Regions from separate parts of the Homo sapiens genome. Here region 2 is linked to region 1. Evidence: fine-mapped expression QTL. A gene starts in region 1. The other region holds a variant in brackets. All regions are shown on one strand. Distances are from middle to middle.

Region 1 (2,913 bases):
TATTGGAAATCTCCATGACTTCCAAATACAGAATATTTTACAATTTTTCCCTATCCCAAAGTTCAGCGAATATGTTGATTTATTTGAGGGAGAGGACATGAAAGGGAAGCCACCTAGGCACAATTTTCTGCTCAGGCCCTACCAGATTAGTTTTTGTTATCAAAAAAAAAAAAAAAAGTGCCATTCCTTGGGCCAAGCTATGTGCTCAGCACTTTCCCTCCATTTTTGATTTAATCTTCACAACAACCTTAAGATGAACGTTCTTTTCTACTTCCCAGTTCTCTTGATTAACTTGGCTACCCCACTATATGGATCAATTTGCAGGGTCCTAGGTCCCTTTGAAAATCTGATGAAAGTTATAAACCTTACCTGGGAAAAAAGTACAAACACCCGCAAGAACTTGAAATAGGAGTTCACTGGCCCTCAACTTTCTGAGCTTACTATTTCACAAACCTGCCTATTCTTGAATTCTGAGCTGGAGGTCATGATTCTCTCTTATGTACTTTAAGATGATGCACTCTTCCGAAGTTTTTGATTGAACTCTAGTGGCTAACTGAATTGACTTTTTCAGATCACTAAAAAGCTTCTCCTTGAAAAATACTCAGAAGATGCAACACACACACACACACACGTGTGTGCACTTACACACGCGGACACCGTCTCACATCATCAGTGGGAAAAGTGATAGAATCTTGCTAAAGGCTGATCATACCATATTAATCCGATTCGCCAGAACTACTTTCTTCACTGAGCTCTCAGGTATGCTCGGGTCTTCCTTTAAAGAAAATAAATGTCAACGCTACACTCTATCCTACTCCCATTTTCCTCCTCACCCCATTTCCACTCTCCCTTAAAGAGATGTGTGCACACAATCACTGCCCAATGCAAGAATGCACCACTGCATCCAATGCTTGGAAATTGTCCGTGAAGATGCCTTTGAGTAGCTGTCTATTTGAGGATTTGTGGCTAATTCCTCCCCATTTGTTTCCTTAGCCTGCTCCCAACCAGGTGTCTCCAGAACTTTTTCTCTCCGCCACCAACTCCGCCTCCAGACAGACCGCAGGTGCTTTCTGTCATAGGGACTGGCGTGCCGCGGACAGTGTGACAAAGAAACTGTATGATGGATATGAGAACTTCGTAAGACCCAGCAGCAAACGGGGAGCGGCTGGCGAGCGCTCCACAGCCCCCAAGCGTGGGAGCTCTAGATCGGAATTTGTAATTTGGAATTGGAACGTGAGCGCCGGAACAGCTCTCCCAGCAACCACCTCTCCCAGCAACCACCTCAGCTGGCGCGCGGAAAACCCGGAAAGTGGATTTCGCCCCCGCTCCCTCCCGGAAACTCCTCCTGGTGCCTGCGACCGTTCTCACTGAGCATGTGCAGACGGCGGTGCGCATGCTCTGTTGCGGTCCGCTTCGGTTTCTGTTGCGGGACCCGGGGTGTCTCCTAGCGCAACCGGAACTAGCCTTCTGGGGGCCGGCTTCCTTTATCTCTGGCGGCCTTGTAGTCGTCTCCGAGACTCCCCACCCCTCCTTCCCTCTTGACCCCCTAGGTTTGATTGCCCTTTCCCCGAAACAACTATCATGAGCGCGAGGCTGCCGGTGTTGTCTCCACCTCGGTGGCCGCGGCTGTTGCTGCTGTCGCTGCTCCTGCTGGGGGCGGTTCCTGGCCCGCGCCGGAGCGGCGCTTTCTACCTGCCCGGCCTGGCGCCCGTCAACTTCTGCGACGAAGAAAAAAAGAGCGACGAGTGCAAGGTGGGTGAGGCCTGACGAGCCCTCTGATGCACTGTTGGAAGGGGAAGTCGTCCCTATCCGGGGGAGCTGATCCTCGGGTGGGAGCGAGGGAAGGGGGCGTAGCAGCGGGTGGGGTTGAGTTTCCCCAGAAGCTTTTGGGGTCTGCTGGGCTGTGGGTGGGGGGCTCTGAAACAGCCCTTGCAAGGGTAGTTTCTGGAGGACGCAGTGGGCCTCAGACTCGCCTCCCGTCTTGCGGGCCAAGTGGCACGAGCAGCTGTATTCAGTTTTCCTGGAACAGGGACCGTGTGGAGCGCCCTTGGAGTTGGGCTTCACGCCTCAGAGCTTTGGAGTTGGATGTATGCAGGTCCACGCGTGAGTGTTCGCTCACAGCCCTGTAACATGTACGCTGAGGAAGCGGGTGACCGACTCCCTACATGTGAGCAACACTCAGCCTAGTTAACAGTTTCCATTAGCTTTTAACTTCATTGCTTCCTGTTTAATTGCATTTTCCTGGAACCTTCTAGTTGGTTAGGAGAGCTTGTTCTTTCTAGGACTTTGATATCTCGCTTCACAATTAGAAGTTGGTTCCTTATTTGTGGAGTATAACACCCAGAGCCACACAAAGTGCATTAATAAAGAGTTGCTGTAATGGTTGAGGCACTTGATTTCTGAGTTTTAAGTGTAAAAGATTTTAATACACAAAAAAAGATACGAGGTCTCACTATTTTCTCTGAGATGGTTTTAAACACTTAAAAGGGGCAAATGGTGGGAGAAACTGGTGTTTTCCTAGGGCAAGTCTTGAAAACTTTGATCTCTTACAACATTCACACTCAAGGTTTTCAGTTTAATTGCTAGTAAAAGAGGCGTAAATAAAGTAACCTGCTTTTAGGTTATATGGTGTAGGGCTTTACAGTATACATACACAATTATTTCGTTAAGTTTATTTAAAACTTAACATTTGGGGGATGAGGATCTCTTTGAAACCTTTAATGATTTCAACAATTCAAATAATCGTTCAACAAACGTTTACAATCTATAAATAGGCTTATTTATTAAGTTTGATTTTTTTAAGCTGGTGTTTATTACAGTTAGCTTTACTATAGCTGTGAATTTTGAGGTTATTTTAGGGCATTAGATAAGCTTTAAATTTTTCATAACATTTTGCAGTTTCTTTTTAGGTTG
Region 2 (2,913 bases), 70 kb after region 1:
CTCAGGAAAAAAAAAAAAAAAAAAAGCAGGGTTGGTGGGGTGGATGCAATGGCTCATGCCTGTAATCCTAGCACTTTGGGAGGCTGAGGTAGGAGGATTGATTGCTTGAGTCCAAGAGTTCGAGACCATCCTGGGCAACAAAATGAGACCCCCATCTCTACAAAAAAAAAAAAAAAAAATTGGCATGGTTGCACGTGCCTGTGGTCCCAGCTACACAGGAGTCTGAGACAGGAGGATCACTTGAACCCAGGAAGTTAAGGCTGCAGTGAGCCATGATTGTACCACTGTACTCCAACCTGGGCAACAGAGTGAGACCCTGCCTCCAAAAAAAAAAAAAAAAAAGCTCAGCTGTTGGGAAAGGTTTTTTAAACCTTTTAAAACCCTCAGAAAGAAAGGTCTCTCCCTATGAATAGCAGGACATTCTGGGGCTTCATTAATATGTAAATATATGTCATTAAGAAAATGTTTTTTCTGGCTGGGCACAGTGGCTCATGCCTGTAATCCTAGCACTTTGGGAGGCTGAGCTGGGTGGATCACGAGGTCAGGAGTTCAAGACCAGCCTGGCCAGTACGGTGAAACCCCATCTCTATTAAAAAGTACAAAAATTAGCTGGGTATGGTGGTGCATGCCTGTAGTCCCAGCTACTCAGGAGGCTGAGACAGGAGAATCGCTTGAACCCAGGAGGCAGAGGTTGCAGTGAGCTGAGATCGCGCCACTGCACTCCAGCCTGAGTAACGATACGAGACTCCAAGACTCCGTCTCAAAAAAAAAAAAGTTTTTTCATATTTGTATTTTGTGTTCTATAGCCCAAGTAGATGGTGACCATAATTTCTCTGCCTACAAGGTTCTATATGTAGAAAATCATGCTTTTCTTTCTCAGATATTTTGATGGAACCAAACCTGTTTCCTATGACTGATTTGTTCTCTCCTTTACTATGTAATTTGAAGTCTAAACACTAAAAATCACTGTTTCTTCACATTCTCTTGCTTTTGGAATTCCACTGGAATTTTTTTTTTTTTTTTTTTGAGATGGAGTCTCGATCTGTCGCCTGGGCTGGAGTGCAGTGGTGCGATCTCGGCTCACTGCGAGCTCCGCCTCCTGGGTTCACGCCATTCTCCTGCCTCAGCCTCCCAAGTAGCTGGGACTACAGGCGAGCGCCACCATGCCTAAATAATTTTTGTATTTTTAGTAGAGATGAGGTTTCACCATGTTAGCCAGGATGGTCCTGATCTCCTGACCTCGTGATCCACCCACCTCAGCCTCCCAAAGTGCTGGGATTACAGGC[G/A]TGAGCCACCGCACCCGGCCTCCACTGGATTTCTTCACCTCACTCTCTTGAACTTCATATACACATGCTCAAATTTGATTCTTTTTTCCCTTTTATTTTTTGACCTAATGATTATTTGACATTCTCATTAATAATGAATTCTTTGGCTGGGCACGGTGGCTTACACCCGTAATTCCAGCACTTTGGGAGGTTGAGGCGAGTGGATCACCTGAGGTCAGGAATTTGAGACCAGCCTGGCCCACATGGTGAAACCCTGTCTCTATTAAAAATACAAAAACTAGCCGGGCATGTTGGTGGGTTCCTGTAATCCCGGCTACTTGGAAGGCTGAGGAAAGAGAATCTCTTGAACCCAGGAGGCAGAGGTTGCAATGAGCCAGGATCGCGCCACTGCACTCCAGCCTGGATGACAGAGCGAAACTCCATCTCAAAAAATAAATAAATAAATAATATAATTAATTCCTTTATTTAGTGAAGAAGAAAGCATGGCTCTAAAAAGTCCTGTTAATTCCTTCGGATATTTTTAGCCAAAAGTGGTCTAGGCCACGTGAGTGGTGTTGACCATGATAAATAAATAGCACTATAATAGGTCACAGGTCATTAATTTCTCTGAAAAGAGTTAAATATGAGATATAAGTTGGAAATGATATATTTAAGGATTAGAGTCCACTTTTTAAAAGGTTTTTACTGATAGCTTACAATTAATGACATTGTATACATTCAAATTTAAATCAGGTTTTAAAAATACGCTAAATGTTTTAGGGTTAGCATTATTATCAAAGAAAATCATAGGCTGTCCAGGTCAGAGAGAACAAGGCTCCTCTGGCTCATGCTAAAGCCAGACAAATTGTGCCACAGTTGACTAGGACCATTTCATAGACAGTGGTGAACCGAGGCAGTGACTCTGTTGACTGGGAACGGCTCATAGCCCGCTCTAAGCTGATACGAGCCACACTGGCATGAGCCACACTGCAGGGCACTCCTGCTGGCTTCCTGCTTCAGCAGTGCCAAGGGAAAGGAGCTGGGGACTTAGAACTCATCCCAAGACACAGCCACGGGGCCACAGCCACACTACAGGTCCCCTCGCAGGTGGCCACCACCGCCAGGACCCAGAGCCACCTTCCAGACTTGCCACTACTCTGCCCTGGATGATGTGACTTGGAAGAACTTTGCCAGCCCCTTGAGGAGAGGAGACATGCTGACACACTGATGATGCCACAGAATTGAAGTGGCAGAATCTTCTTCTGGACATCAGTAACCCAGATGGGAAGGACTGGGAACACCTGGGTGTAATGGATTCACTTCATGCTGGAGAAATGTGAGTTGGTTGTTGCTGGAATTGCACAAAGTATCCCCAGCAAAAATCCCTTCCTACTCTGGCAAACGTGCTGGCAGACAGTGACGACTTGATGCAGCAATGCGTGTCTGGGTTAGCTTTCGTCATCCCAGAGCCATCCACCCCCTTCGTCAACCTCCTGCCCAATATATCTGTGGTGCGTGTACGTGAATGGGCACTCGTGTGTGTGTGAGAGAGGGAGTATGTGTGTGTAAAGTGCAAGAGGAGGTGGCATGAAGGGACACAGGCTGTAGTGTCAGCTGAGGGTGTGTTTCACTCCAGCTCTAGGACCCC

Evidence for each region. PIP is the estimated chance that this variant, and not a neighbour inherited with it, causes the effect.
Region 2: its variant is the best candidate, but not a certain one, in a credible set for the expression of TM9SF2 in whole blood (TOPMed, PIP 0.54).

Annotation. Positions count from the first base shown.
Region 1 is chr13:99,500,026-99,502,938 of GRCh38, forward strand. TM9SF2 (transmembrane 9 superfamily member 2) reads left to right here and starts at 1,447. Exons shown (of 17, transcript NM_004800.3): 1 at 1,447-1,752. The coding sequence starts at 1,582. LINC00449 (long intergenic non-protein coding RNA 449) reads right to left here and starts at 1,038. Exons shown (of 2, transcript NR_133664.1): 1 at 370-1,038. RefSeq lists enhancers at 1,153-1,332, 1,239-1,827.
Region 2 is chr13:99,569,623-99,572,535 of GRCh38, forward strand. No RefSeq gene overlaps it. Among named protein-coding and RNA genes, the nearest start is that of LINC01039, 6.0 kb to the right of the region's middle. The variant G/A (reference allele first, on the strand shown) is at 1,287.